4 linked regions of the Homo sapiens genome follow. The protein of the gene in region 3 purifies or fractionates together with the protein of the main gene of each other region. This does not show direct contact. Each region holds a gene or a part of one and is shown on either strand. Other genes may lie near its edges.

What was found.
Region 1: the proteins of TLR9 (region 3) and GTF2I purify together in Homo sapiens (affinity purification with mass spectrometry, with the first as the bait; one large-scale study listed by BioGRID). This does not show direct contact.
Region 2: the proteins of TLR9 (region 3) and PDZD8 purify together in Homo sapiens (affinity purification with mass spectrometry; one large-scale study listed by BioGRID and IntAct). This does not show direct contact.
Region 4: the proteins of TLR9 (region 3) and TPRN purify together in Homo sapiens (affinity purification with mass spectrometry, with the first as the bait; one large-scale study listed by BioGRID). This does not show direct contact.

The regions. Positions count from the first base shown.
Region 1 is NC_000007.14:74,734,218-74,737,717, forward strand, and holds part of GTF2I (general transcription factor II-I), read left to right. Parts: intron 1-1,243; coding exon 1,244-1,315; intron 1,316-2,282; coding exon 2,283-2,466; intron 2,467-3,500. UniProt on the Homo sapiens protein: Interacts with the basal transcription machinery by coordinating the formation of a multiprotein complex at the C-FOS promoter, and linking specific signal responsive activator complexes.
Region 2 is NC_000010.11:117,368,941-117,372,440, forward strand, and holds part of PDZD8 (PDZ domain-containing protein 8), read right to left. Parts: intron 1-3,500. UniProt on the Homo sapiens protein: Molecular tethering protein that connects endoplasmic reticulum and mitochondria membranes. PDZD8-dependent endoplasmic reticulum-mitochondria membrane tethering is essential for endoplasmic reticulum-mitochondria Ca(2+) transfer.
Region 3 is NC_000003.12:52,222,846-52,226,783, reverse strand, and holds the start of TLR9 (toll-like receptor 9 precursor), read left to right. Parts: upstream 1-1,138; 5' UTR 1,139-1,254; coding exon 1,255-1,257; intron 1,258-2,471; coding exon 2,472-3,938.
Region 4 is NC_000009.12:137,194,431-137,197,741, reverse strand, and holds part of TPRN (taperin), read left to right. Parts: intron 1-3,311. UniProt on the Homo sapiens protein: Essential for hearing. Required for maintenance of stereocilia on both inner and outer hair cells. Necessary for the integrity of the stereociliary rootlet.

The DNA.
Region 1 (3,500 bases), on a different chromosome or scaffold from region 3:
ACAGAAGTAAAAGAACAATATTTGTTCTACTTTTGATGCAAGATTTATCTGGCATAATGCATTGAACAGTTTATTATTGAAGTCTACACGAGTCAATGGAACAAGCATTCATTGAATGTCCATGATATGCAGGACATAAGAAGGTTTCCTTTTAGAGCATGGAGCCATTTATATCATCTCTTAATTGTTAGATGTATTTTGTTTTGTTTTGTTTTGTTTTTTGAGAGGGAATCTTGCTCTGTTGCCCAGGCTGGAGTGCAGTGGTGCGATCTCCGCTCACTGCAACCTCCCGCCTCCTGGGTTCAAGCAGTTCTCCTGCCTCAGCCTCCCTGTAGCTGGGATTACAGGTGCCTGCCACCATGCCCAGCTAATTTTTGTATTTTTCGTAGAGACAGGGTTTCACTATGTTGGCCAGGCTGATCTCAAACTGCTGACCTCAGGTGATCTGCCCACCTCGGCCTCCCAGAGTGCTAGGATTACAGGCATGAGCCACCGCGCCCAGCCTGTTAGATGTGTTTTAAAATAAATAGAAATATAATTGATTTTCTTGCTTGCTTTTGCTCTGGAGTGGAGTGGAGTGAGGATAAAACAGAATGGAATCACCCTGTTGATATTTACTAAGATAGAAGGACTGCAGCAAGATCATAGCCCTAATCTTCCTGTAGCAAGTGTTACCTGCTAGCTGTTCCTGAATACACTGAGTTTTGCTTTTTCCTAGCTCTAATGAATGTTTCGTTCTTCCTCTTTTTGTACAGTGTCAGCATTGTTTTAGAAATAAATACATTCTAGAATCTTAGGAATAATTTTATTATTGTCTTTTTTTTTTTTTGAGACGGAATCTCATTCTGTTGCCCAGGCTGGAGTGCAATGGCGCAATCTCAGCTCACTGCAACCGCTGCCTCCTGGGTTCAAGCGATTCTCCTGCCTCAGCCTCATGAGTAGCTGGGACTACAGGCGTGCGCCATCACGCCTGGCTAATTTTTGTATTTTTAGTAGAGATGGGGTTTCACCATGTTGGCCAGGCTGGTCTCAAACTCCTGACCTCAAGTGACCCGCCTGCCTCGGCTTCCCAAAGTGTTGGGATTACAGGTGTGAGCCATTGCACCTGGCCACGAATCTTAGAAATAATTTTGGCCATAGGAAAAGGAAAAGTTATACCTCTTATTTTATAGTAATAATGTTTAATAATCAAGTTATTAAACCCATTAAATTGAGAACACTTGTATTACTGTTATTTTGACAGTAAAGGAAGAATGGTATGCCAGAATCACTAAATTAAGAAAGATGGTGGATCAGCTTTTCTGCAAAAAATTTGGTAAGTCTGTTTTTTTTAATTACCCCTTCAACTAAAATGTATTACTGAGTAACATTTTTTTAAATGTTGTTTTATTTTAGGAAAGTAAATACAGTGAATAGGACTCAGCTTTAGTTTTCCCTGTTTTTTTTTTTTGGGTTTTTTTTTTTTTCTTGAGAAGGAGTCTTGCTCTGTTGCCCAGGCTGGAGTGCAGTGGTACGATCTCAGCTCACTGCAACCTCCTCCTCCCGGGTTCAAGCAATTCTCCTGCCTCAGCGTCCCAAGTAGCTGGGATTACAGGTGCCCGCCACCACGCCTGGCTAACTTTTGTATTTTTAGTAGAGATGGGGTTTCGCCATGTTGGCCAGGCTGGTCTCAAACTCCTGAATTCAGGTGATCCACCCGCCTCAGCCTCCTAAAGTGCTGGGATTATAGGCGTGAGCCACCGCGCCCGGCCCCCATTCTATGAATTATCTGTGGAAAGTTATTTCCTTTAAAATGGCATGCTCGTGAGGTTGAAGGGGTAAAGAACATTGATCTGGTTGCCACGCAGATGAAAGTGTAGTCGGAAATGTGTTACCAGTTTGCCATAGCCGATGGAGGAGGGTAATTACGGTCCTGAACAGTTAGTAGCAAAAGGCTGCTTCCAGATAGTATTTAGGTTGTGTCCTCTATTGTCCATGATGATTTTCTTTCTCTCTTTTCTTCCTAAGGATATTGAAAAACAAACTTTAATCTTTTAAAGATCTCAGAGCTATTAAGATTGTCTTAGGACCAGGACACTTAAATCTGCCCAAATCTGGCTGTTGATGATCGGTCATCTCTACTTGTCTTTGCTGTATTAAGTCTATTCAATAGTTAATAAATATGTTTCTAGAAAGAGTTTTTTTCAAGTAAAACAAAATTGACCTGTGCCTTTCTTTGGATTGTACTAAAATCTGATTTCAATACAAATGTAGTCTCCCGAATTGCTTTGATTTTTGTCCAGCGGAAGCCTTGGGGAGCACTGAAGCCAAGGCTGTACCGTACCAAAAATTTGAGGCACACCCGAATGATCTGTACGTGGAAGGACTGCCAGAAAACATTCCTTTCCGAAGTCCCTCATGGTATGGAATCCCAAGGCTGGAAAAAATCATTCAAGTGGGCAATCGAATTAAATTTGTTATTAAAAGGTAAGATGATAATCTGTAGAAATAGTTTCAGTGTCTTCCCTGAGAAGAGGTTAATTTGATGAAGAAGGGCCTTTTGTTTACCTTATGACTTATTTCTATTGACAATGAAGGCATTAATATTTAGATTCACTTAGTGAACAAATATTAGTATAAGCATCAGATGTGCAAAATTGGGTCTAACAAGAACACTGTCCTTGGGGCCTTCATACAAAGAAAAATGCACTGAAGGCCGGGCGCGGCAGCTCACGCCTGTAATCGCAGCACTTTGGGAGGCCAAGGCAGGTGGATCACTTGAGGTCAGGAGTTCAAGACTAGCCTGGCCAACATGATGAAGCCCCATCTCTAGTAAAAATACAAAAATTAGCTGGAAGCGGTGGTGCAAGCCTGTAGTCCCAGCTACTCGGGAGGCTGAGGTTGGAGAATCACTTGAACCCTAGAGGCGGAGGTTGCAGTGAGCCGAGATCGTGCCACTGCACTCCAGCCTGGGCAACAGAGCGAGACTCCATCTCAAAATAATTAAAAAAAAAAAATAGAAAAATGCAATGAAGTGTTATTGAGCGTTTTTAAGGGAGAAGGCAAGGATGGCACACCCAGCTCGGTCACTTGTGCATCCAGAAGAGATGGAAGGTGTTTCAAGTGAAGGAAATCATATGAGTAGGGGGAGGAGGTGGCAAATATGCCTGCGTATCCACAGAACTCACCCACCGTGTGTGGAGTGAGGACTGCCACGTGGGCGTGGTGGGGTTGCATGGATCGACTTGGGTGGGCAAGTGGAGGAAGGCCTGAGATCCTACGAACACAGAGGCAGTCACGAAGTGGTCTCGAGGCAGATGCCTCTGAAAATAATGTGGATCCGCCCTTTAGAAAGGTAATTCTGGCTTGATTTTGAAGGATAACACAATGGTTAGTTTGGGTGCGGGGTTAGGAACAGAAGGCCTCTCTCCACTCATTGACGGGATGTGGAAGGGTAAACCTTCCTTACTGATTGGGGTCATGCCTCTGTGTGTTTGTTGGGACTGAGTTATAAGGGATAG
Region 2 (3,500 bases), on a different chromosome or scaffold from region 3:
CGCCTCCTGGGTTCAAGCAATTCTCATGCCTCAGCATCCCCAGCAGCTGGGACTGCAGGTGCGTGCCATTTTTAGTAGAAGCGGGGTTTCACCATGTTGGCCAGGCTGGTCTCGAACTCCTGACCTCAAGTGATCCACCCACCTTGGCCTCCCAAAGTGCTGAGATTACAGGCATCAGCCACCACGCCAGGCCTGACAATGTCTTTTATTTATTTATTTATTTATTTTTACTTTTTGAGATAGAGTCTTGCTCTGTTGCCCAGGCTGGAGTGCAGTGGTATGATCTCGGCTTGCAGCAATCTCTGCCTCTCGGGTTCAAGCGATTCTCCTGCCTCAGCCTCCTGAGTAACTGGAATTACAGGCATGTGCCACCATGCCCAGCTAATTTTTGTATTTTTAGTAAAGATGGGGTTTCGCCATGTTGACCAGGCTGGTCTCGAACTCCTGACCTCAAGTGATCCGCCTGCCTTGCCCTCCCAAAGTGCTGGGATTACAGGAGTGAGCCACCGCACCTGGCCAACAATGTCTTTTAAAAAATAAAATTGCTCTATGACAGTCCCTTCAAAAATGTAATTAAAAGAAGGATAAAAATGATCACTCTCCCTCTCCACTCCAGCTATTAAGTCTTCTCATTTTCACTAATCAGCAACAGTAATGCTCCCTATTTACTCCTCCAGTACGGGTCTCAAATTCATATAACTCCAAGCCAGGCAAGTACCATCAATTAAGCACAGCAAATAAGGGGGGACTATAAACTCCACCTAGGAGCTTACACACCGAGTTTCAACCCCAAAGCTGCTACTACAGTCCATCTCTCCATCCTGTTGTTGCTCTGAGAAATGCAGCACTGGCGCTACAAGATATTCCAATTTTTCCTAACAGAAGCCACAAATCCAAAACACACAGAATTTTCCATTTTTTAAACAGTGCAGGCCAAATTAAAAGTACCTGCAAACTGAATCTGCTTGTCTATATACAATAATACTCCAGGAACACAAGCATCCGTAAGAATCTCAAATATTTGACTCCTAAACCCTAAACAGAGCTCCCCACCCAGACACTATTACTCAGACTCCATGTTTAAGATGAATTATCCACGTAGTAAAAGAACATTAGTGGTAATCTTTCTCCCTTGAGGATGGATTCTGAGGTTCATTTAAAAAAATATATTGCTATTATAATATACTATTTTAATTAAAAAATCAAACCAATTAACATTGAGGTGGATGAATGAAATTCCTAACTTGAATAAATCTGTAAACATATTGTCTACATATTATAATTCATTTTGTAAAATAAAATGTTTTACAAACATTGTAAGTTTGTTAACTTGGGTAAAATGAAATGTCAGTCAGCTGGGTCCTTAGAAAGCAACCACTTGAGCAACTTAGCATCTCTAGGTGAAACATCAGGAACTGGCAGTCCAGAGAGGCTGATTCACTTTAGCAACACGAAAAAGGCAAAATAAATGAAGGGGGAAAGAAGTAATAACAACGTTAACTGGCAAGATATTTGTTATGTAATGATTACAAATGCCAAAGGATCGTAAGACTCCATACAATTCTCTTTACTGCTTTAGCTCTACTAAGAAGATTAGATAGCTAAAAAAGAATAAACTAGGCCGGGCACAGCGGCTCACACATGTAACCCCAGCACTTTGGGAGGCCGAGGTGGGTAGACTGCCTGAAGTCAGGAGTTCGAAACCAGCCTGGCCAACATGGTGAAACCTGTCTCTTCTATTTGGAAACACAATTCTGCTCAATTAAAAAAGAAATGCCACGTGGGACAGTACCCAAAGATTTAGCCTCATGATTTACTTTTAAAAGGATCCTCTAAAATGACCAATTTAAGAAAAAAAAATCAGCTTTATAGTCATACTCTTCTCAAGAGTTCTAGGTTAGTTTGGAAAGATATCCCACATATTTACTATATCGATGGCATGCTTTTAAAAAATAAATCACTTAAGAACAACATAGTTTGTGTGTGTGTGTGTGTGTGTGTGTGTGTGTGTGTTTAAAGGTGGCCTGGCCTTATCAGAGCTGCGTTTCAACACTTGAAAGCTGTGTGACTTTAAGCAAGTTATTTAACTACTCCGAGCTCCATTTCCTCATCTGTAAAAAAAGATGAACACTAGCTAGTTTAATTTTCCCTGTGAGAAGTATGCTATATCTTAGATGTATTGTAATTCATTCTTATCTGAAACTTGAATCAGTCCCACATCATCACCAGTTTGTTTATTTATTTATTTACTTATTTATTTTGGAGACGGAGTCTCACCCTGTCGCCCAGGCTGGAGTGCAGTGGTGCGATATCGGCTGGCTGCAACCTCTGCCTCCCAGGTACAAGCCATTTTCCTGCCTCAGCCTCCAGAGTAGCTGGGATTACAGGCGCCCGCCACCACGCCCAGCTAATTTTTGCATTTTTACTAGAGACGGGGTTTCATCAGGTTGGCCAGGCTGGTCTCACACTCCTGACCTTAAGTAATCCGCCTGTCTCAGCCTTACAAAGTGCTGGGATCACAGGCGTGAACCACTGCACCTGGCCCATCACCAGTTTAAAACACTGGACAGAACAGCTACACAGACAAGAAGTCATCACTTGCTGAGGCAGCCCTTTTCATCGTCATACTTGCTATTTTCTTCTACTAAGCTAAAACCGGCTTCCTGGCTACTTCAACCCCATCAATCCCATTCTAGTTTAAATCTTACAAAGCGCCGGGCAAGGTGGCTCACACCTGTAATCCCAGCACTTTGGGAGGCTGAGGTGGGAGGATCACTTGAATGAACCCAGGAGTTCCAGACTAGCCTGGGCAACAAAGCAAGACCTATCTCTACAAAAAAAATTTTTTTTTAATTAGCCAGGAGTGGTGGCACACACCTGTGGTCCTAACTACTTGGAAGGTTGAGATGGGAGGATTGCTTGAGCCCAGGAGGTCGAAGCTGCCGTGAGCCATGATCCTGACACTGTACTCCAGCTCTGGGCAACCGAACAAAATCCTGTCTCAACAAACAAACGAAAAACACAAAAAAATTACTAAGTATAGCTAATTCAATTCTCACTAGACTCTAAGCTTCCTGAGGGCTGAGTTCAAGTATTGTTCAGTACTGAAATCCCAGCATCTACAACAAGGATAAGCATATAGCAGGTGTACAATAAACATTTACAGATTGAGTGATATGCTCTGTGCAGCTGACTGAGCATTGAGATGCCATCCAGTATAAATAGCACAGATGTGCATACTTCTGGAAATGATCATTTAATGCTTCACATTTAGAAGTTGAAATATCATAACCAAATTCATGCTGTTTTTAAAAAAATCCCTTCAAAGTGAAAAGCAATTTTGCCATACTTTTAAATGGTTGTTATTCAATGATACAGATAATAGTTTTTCAAAGTAATAAACTTCTCAATGCCTCCATAACTTATTCATAACTTACTTCAGATTTACCTAAATTCCAAGTCTACATTAAAAAAAAAATCTCAAAATGATATGTAATCTC
Region 3 (3,938 bases):
GAGACTTGGGGGAGTTTTCAGGCAGAGGGAACAGCACATCCCAAGGCCCTGAGGCAGGAGAATGCCCAGGGGCTACACAGTCAACTGCAAGCAGGCCAGTGGGCCTGGAGAGCACTCAGGGGAACAGCGGGTGGCAGGTCCCATAGGGCCTTGTTGGCCATCTGTGGACTGTGGCTTTGACTCCAGAGTCAGCCAGGGAGGGGTCTGAGCAGAGGAGGGACCTAGTGTGACTTAGGTTTGAACAGTTCCCTCTAGGGGCTGAATGTGACCAGCCCCTGGAGGGCAGAGAGCAGGGCAGGACAGCCAGAAGGGAGGTGGCACCTGCATGGGTCTAGGAGAGAGGATGGGGGCTGGTGGACATGGGGACGGTGGGCTGTGGGCACACCCTTCAGCATGGTGGACCCAGCAGAACTTGCTGAGGGGCCCGGGGTCACCCAAGGCTTTGGGCCCGAGGAATCTGAGTCTCCTCACCTAGATCAGAAGGAGAGTGGGAAGAACTGATGGGGAGGACTGGCTGGCGGCCCTGCTGGGCCAGCACACACCTGGCCTCTAGGAGCCCCATCTGGAGTGACGTGGTGTGTGCTCTGATGGGGCCCCAGGGGCTCTGGGAATGTGGAGGAGGAGGTCTTGTTTCCGGAAGATGTTGCAAGGCTGTGGTGAAGGCAGGTGCAGCCTAGCCTCCTGCTCAAGCTACACCCTGGCCCTCCACGCATGAGGCCCTGCAGAACTCTGGAGATGGTGCCTACAAGGGCAGAAAAGGACAAGTCGGCAGCCGCTGTCCTGAGGGCACCAGCTGTGGTGCAGGAGCCAAGACCTGAGGGTGGAAGTGTCCTCTTAGAATGGGGAGTGCCCAGCAAGGTGTACCCGCTACTGGTGCTATCCAGAATTCCCATCTCTCCCTGCTCTCTGCCTGAGCTCTGGGCCTTAGCTCCTCCCTGGGCTTGGTAGAGGACAGGTGTGAGGCCCTCATGGGATGTAGGCTGTCTGAGAGGGGAGTGGAAAGAGGAAGGGGTGAAGGAGCTGTCTGCCATTTGACTATGCAAATGGCCTTTGACTCATGGGACCCTGTCCTCCTCACTGGGGGCAGGGTGGAGTGGAGGGGGAGCTACTAGGCTGGTATAAAAATCTTACTTCCTCTATTCTCTGAGCCGCTGCTGCCCCTGTGGGAAGGGACCTCGAGTGTGAAGCATCCTTCCCTGTAGCTGCTGTCCAGTCTGCCCGCCAGACCCTCTGGAGAAGCCCCTGCCCCCCAGCATGGTAGGACAACAGCTCTCAGTCCCCTGGGGAAGGGGATATCCTGGGAAGGGGTGGGGAAAGAAGTGGGCTTGGCAGCTGCAAGCAACAGTGACGGGTTGTCACCCACATGGCCCTGGGGACACTCACTGAATCCTGAAGACTTCAGAGCCGAAGCCCTCTTCTTTTTTCTTTTTTTTTTTTTTTGAGACGGAGTTTCGCTCTTGTTGCCCAGGCTGGAGTGCAGTGGCTTGATCTCAGCTCACTGCAATCTCCACCTCCCGGGTTCAAGTGATTCTCCTGCCTCAGCCTCCCAAGTAGCTGGGATTATGGCTTGCGCCACCATGCCTGGCTAATTTTGTATTTTTAGTAGAGCCAGGGTTTCTCCATGTTGGTCAGGCTGGTCTTGAACTCCAGACCTCAGGTGATCTGCCCACTTCGGCTTCCCAAACTGCTGGGATTACAGGTGTGAGCCACCGTGCCCAGCCACTGAAGCCCTCTTCTGAGCAATGAGACCCAAACCCCCAGAGGGGACGAGGAGACTGAGGCACTGATGGAGCTGGGGCTGGAGCCTGGGTTTGGGTCTCACTGGGCCTGTAGCTTGGGGCTGGCTCTGTCTGGCACTTTGCAGGCCACCCCTCTCTCCATCTGTTCTGACCCATAAGGCAAAGGCTCTCGGGCTAGGTGAGGCAGGCAGAGAGTGATGGAGCTGTGCAGTGCCCTCTGGCCAGGGTCCCTGGGAGGCAGCCGGCCTGGGCCATAGTGGGAGACTCTCACACCTGCCTGAATCTTGGCCGAAGGAAAAGGAAGGGGTTGTGGGGTGGCTGGTGGAGGGCAGAGAGCGGATTTCAGGGCAGCTGGAGGGGAGGGAGCCAGCTGCCACCTTGCTCAGGAGCAGGAAGGGAAAGTCGGGGAGAGACCAGGGGGGGCCGTGGGCCACCTTGCCTGGCCTGGTATAGCCAGGGATTGGTTAAGTGAAAGCTGTAGATCATAAGTCTGGATTCTAGGTCTCAGTCCTGGTTCTGAAGCCTAATTCTGAGTCCAAGACTGGGTCTGAGACTGAGTTCAGGTTCCCCACAAGCCATGGGGGATGGGAATGGGGCTTGGCAGCCAGGAAGAACTTCTGCAGGTAGGGCTTGGAGAGAGGGGTTGGAAGATGCTAGAAGATGCCCATGAAGTGGAGTGGGTGGAGGTAGAGCTGGGGGCCGGCCACTCACACAGCCCTCCCACCCCCACAGGGTTTCTGCCGCAGCGCCCTGCACCCGCTGTCTCTCCTGGTGCAGGCCATCATGCTGGCCATGACCCTGGCCCTGGGTACCTTGCCTGCCTTCCTACCCTGTGAGCTCCAGCCCCACGGCCTGGTGAACTGCAACTGGCTGTTCCTGAAGTCTGTGCCCCACTTCTCCATGGCAGCACCCCGTGGCAATGTCACCAGCCTTTCCTTGTCCTCCAACCGCATCCACCACCTCCATGATTCTGACTTTGCCCACCTGCCCAGCCTGCGGCATCTCAACCTCAAGTGGAACTGCCCGCCGGTTGGCCTCAGCCCCATGCACTTCCCCTGCCACATGACCATCGAGCCCAGCACCTTCTTGGCTGTGCCCACCCTGGAAGAGCTAAACCTGAGCTACAACAACATCATGACTGTGCCTGCGCTGCCCAAATCCCTCATATCCCTGTCCCTCAGCCATACCAACATCCTGATGCTAGACTCTGCCAGCCTCGCCGGCCTGCATGCCCTGCGCTTCCTATTCATGGACGGCAACTGTTATTACAAGAACCCCTGCAGGCAGGCACTGGAGGTGGCCCCGGGTGCCCTCCTTGGCCTGGGCAACCTCACCCACCTGTCACTCAAGTACAACAACCTCACTGTGGTGCCCCGCAACCTGCCTTCCAGCCTGGAGTATCTGCTGTTGTCCTACAACCGCATCGTCAAACTGGCGCCTGAGGACCTGGCCAATCTGACCGCCCTGCGTGTGCTCGATGTGGGCGGAAATTGCCGCCGCTGCGACCACGCTCCCAACCCCTGCATGGAGTGCCCTCGTCACTTCCCCCAGCTACATCCCGATACCTTCAGCCACCTGAGCCGTCTTGAAGGCCTGGTGTTGAAGGACAGTTCTCTCTCCTGGCTGAATGCCAGTTGGTTCCGTGGGCTGGGAAACCTCCGAGTGCTGGACCTGAGTGAGAACTTCCTCTACAAATGCATCACTAAAACCAAGGCCTTCCAGGGCCTAACACAGCTGCGCAAGCTTAACCTGTCCTTCAATTACCAAAAGAGGGTGTCCTTTGCCCACCTGTCTCTGGCCCCTTCCTTCGGGAGCCTGGTCGCCCTGAAGGAGCTGGACATGCACGGCATCTTCTTCCGCTCACTCGATGAGACCACGCTCCGGCCACTGGCCCGCCTGCCCATGCTCCAGACTCTGCGTCTGCAGATGAACTTCATCAACCAGGCCCAGCTCGGCATCTTCAGGGCCTTCCCTGGCCTGCGCTACGTGGACCTGTCGGACAACCGCATCAGCGGAGCTTCGGAGCTGACAGCCACCATGGGGGAGGCAGATGGAGGGGAGAAGGTCTGGCTGCAGCCTGGGGACCTTGCTCCGGCCCCAGTGGACACTCCCAGCTCTGAAGACTTCAGGCCCAACTGCAGCACCCTCAACTTCACCTTGGATCTGTCACGGAACAACCTGGTGACCGTGCAGCCGGAG
Region 4 (3,311 bases), on a different chromosome or scaffold from region 3:
TCAGTCTGATAGCCACAGCCTCTCTCCTCCAGCTCCTGTCTGCCTCTCCCTCCCCTGCGTCTGTACCTTTGGCCCTGGCTGCTGTGTGAGGTGGGCACCTCCTGGGCTTGCCCCAGAGGTGGCAGTGGGGACAGCTCCCCCTTTGTAGAGAGAAACTGCGCCTCAGCTTGGGAGTCAGACGGGGTCATGGGGCTTGTGGGGCGAGTACGGAGTTCAGGTTTCTGTTTCTAGAACCCCTCCCCTTAACCTGTGTGGCCATCCCTGGGAGCCTGGCTTCTTCCTGGGACTTGAGGCCACTGCCTAGAGTCTGGCCATCTTGCCCTCAGAAGGGACAGAACTGGGCTGGGCGCGGTGGCTCACACCTTGTAATCCCAGCACTTTGGGAGGCCGAGGCGGGTGGATCACGAGGTCAGGAGTTCAAGACAAGCCTTGCCAAGGTGGTGAAACCCCGTCTCTACTAAGAAGATATAAAAAAATTAGCTGGGCGTGGTGGCGGGCGCCTATAATCCCAGCTATTCAGGAGACTGAGGCAGGAGAATTGCTTGAACCCGGGAGGCGGAGCTTGCAGTGAGCCGAGATCGCGCCATTGCACTCCAGCCTGGGCGACAGAGTGAGACTCTGTCTCAAAAAGAAAAAAGCAAAGAAGGGACAGAACTGTGGGGGTCATTTGCGGCTGGGTTAGGGTCAGAAGGGCAGGGTGGGGGCCGGAGGGCCAACAGGAGCAGGAAGATGCAGTGGGGGAGAGGCTGAGCCTGGGAAACAGGCCCTGGACCAGCAGGAGGGAGGAGCTCGGGCCAGCCTGAAGGGGTGGGGGTCCAGATGGACGATACCTGGCATGGCCAGGTGGCCCGGGCAGGGCCCTGCCAGAGCAGCATGACCTGCTGGCTGTGACTTCCCGCCTGGGTACAGGCCAGCTGCCCTGCCTGGGAAGAGCCAGAATGTCCATCAGGAGGGGACAGAGGCGTGGGGCTGCCCTGCCTTTCAGAATGGCTTGCTGGCCTCGGCACGGTGGGCTGTGGGGCAGGGCTGTCCCATGTACTCTGTGGCCCCTGGGCCAGGAGCACTCACTGGTGGGGGTGCGAGGTGCCCCTGCGGGTCCTGTGCCTGGCCTTGTCTGACCACCCTGGCCAGCCTTTTTTTATTTTTTGTTTTTTGAGACAGAGTCTTGCTCTGTCGCCCAGGCTGGAGGGTAGTGGCAGGATCCCGGCTCAGGGCAAACTTCATCTCCCAGGGTTCAAGCGATTCTCCTGCCTCAGCCTCTCAAGTAGCTGGGATTACAGGCGCCTGCCACCATGCCCAGCTAATTATCGTATTTTTAGTAGAGACGAGGTTTTACCATATTGGCCAGGTTGGTCTCGAACTCCTGACCTCAGATGATCCGCCTGCCTTAGCCTCCCAAAGTGCTGGGATTACAGGCGTGAGCCACCGTGCTGACCCCAGCCTTTGGTTGGGACCACTGGCTGTGACCCCCGGGCGTGGGGGTGGAGTGCAGGGATTGCAGGGCCCGGAGTCTAGCAGGACCTGACTGTGGGCCAACGGCTCACTGTGCACCTCAGCGGCTGGCGGTGCTGCTGCTTTTCCTGGGGTACAGGTGAAGGGCAGCTCTTCAGTGGAGTTGTCTGGGTGGTGGGAGTCGGTGAGGGGCCTGCCCCAGGGCTGGCTGTGCCTGCACAGGGTATGATACCCTTGCCCGCCTCCGAGGGGTGCAGCCCTGCTCTGGGCAGTGGGGAGCTGCTGGCCTGTGTGCCGGGGTGGGGGCCTGCCTGGCAGGCACAGGCCCACTTAAGTTATCCATTGGCAGAAGCGGCAGGTGCCCCGTCTTGCAGGGCTGAGCTTGGAGCAGACTGCTGTGTGCTGCAGCCACGCCCGGGCTGCTTTCCTGGAGGGTGGGACACCCATTCTCATCCTCACACCTGCCTCCCTTGAGACTCGGCGCTGTAGCTTTTCCTCTTCGTGGAGCACCACCTGGCCTGGCTCCTACCTGTCTGGCGGCCCCTTCCCGTCCCCTCTGCCCTACTCCCCTCCTCCCCTCTTGGCTCTCTGCCCAGCTGGAGCGTGTCAGTGTCCCCAGGGCTCAGTCCTGGACACCCAGGGCCGTCCGCCCTCACCTGCTGTGCAACTTCCGCCTCCACTCCCAAGGCCTCGCTCTCTGATCCTTAGACCCAAGAGCCACCCTGACATCTGCCCTTCCTACTGACACCACCTCCTGGCCAGCACCAAGCCCCAGGCTGGGCTCCTCCCTGCCTCTACCCCTGTGCAGGCAGATCCTGGGTGGCCAGAGGCTCTCACTGTTGTTGGCTGAGTCCCTTCTTGTCAGTTTTCCTTTCCTTCTCGTCTCTCCGCCAGCTCTTCCCATAGGTGCCGCCTAGGTGGTCCTTCTGAAGCCGGGAACCCCAGGAGCGGCCTGGACGCTCCTCCCTCAGCTTTCTCATGGGTGGAGGCCGTGCCTGGCGCTGGGGCCACACTTGACTCAGGGAGCACCCAGCTTCCCGGGAGCCTGCTCTGGGCATTGCACTCGTGCAGCCTGGTCTAGGGTCCGGCCACCCGTGGGAGCCTTGGCTGGGGCTGCGTGGGGGATGGGAGGCAGGTAGCTGTGTGCAGGGAGGAGGGAGAGGCGGGGCTGGGCTCAGCTCACACCTCCATCTGGGCAGGTTGGGGCTGGCTGCTTGGCCCTTTGTCCCAGGTGGAGGCCAGGCCCTTTGGTAACCAAAGCTAGGTGTGCACAGGCAGGGTGGGTGGAGCGAGAACAGAAGGGTCCTGAGAAGCCGGGAGGCTCTGCTGGGAGGCTGGGCTGAGCTGGGACCCACCTGCCTGCTCTGTTGGCTGTGCCAGGCAAAGTCCCTGATAGGCTGCGGCCAGGTGCGTGCGGTCCCAGACCCTGGCCACACCCTCTGCCCATCCTGCGTCTCGGGGTCTTCAGGCTGCCCACCGTATGAGTCACGGGGTGTCCTGTCCCCACAGTGGGAGGGGAGGGCTGTGCGAGTCAGCAGGCACCAGCCCAGCTGAGGAGACCTGGGGAGGCAGGACGTGACCAGAGCCCCGGGCCCCAGCTGAGGGCAGACAGGGGCTGCCTGTCCACCCCCCGCCCCGCACCGCCTGGCCAGGCTGTACCAGGCTCAGGGCCCATGTGCACCCAGCCCCCGCGGCCCCCCTGCTGGGACCGGTCATGTGCACGAGTGAGGGCACTAATCCCGCGGCCCTGGCAGCCAGCCCTTCTGTGTTCTCAGCCGTGGGGGCTGGGCCTGGAGGGCTTCGGGGTCATCTGGGTTAGCTCCACATATCCAGGGCGACTGGAAACCCCATTTGCTGCT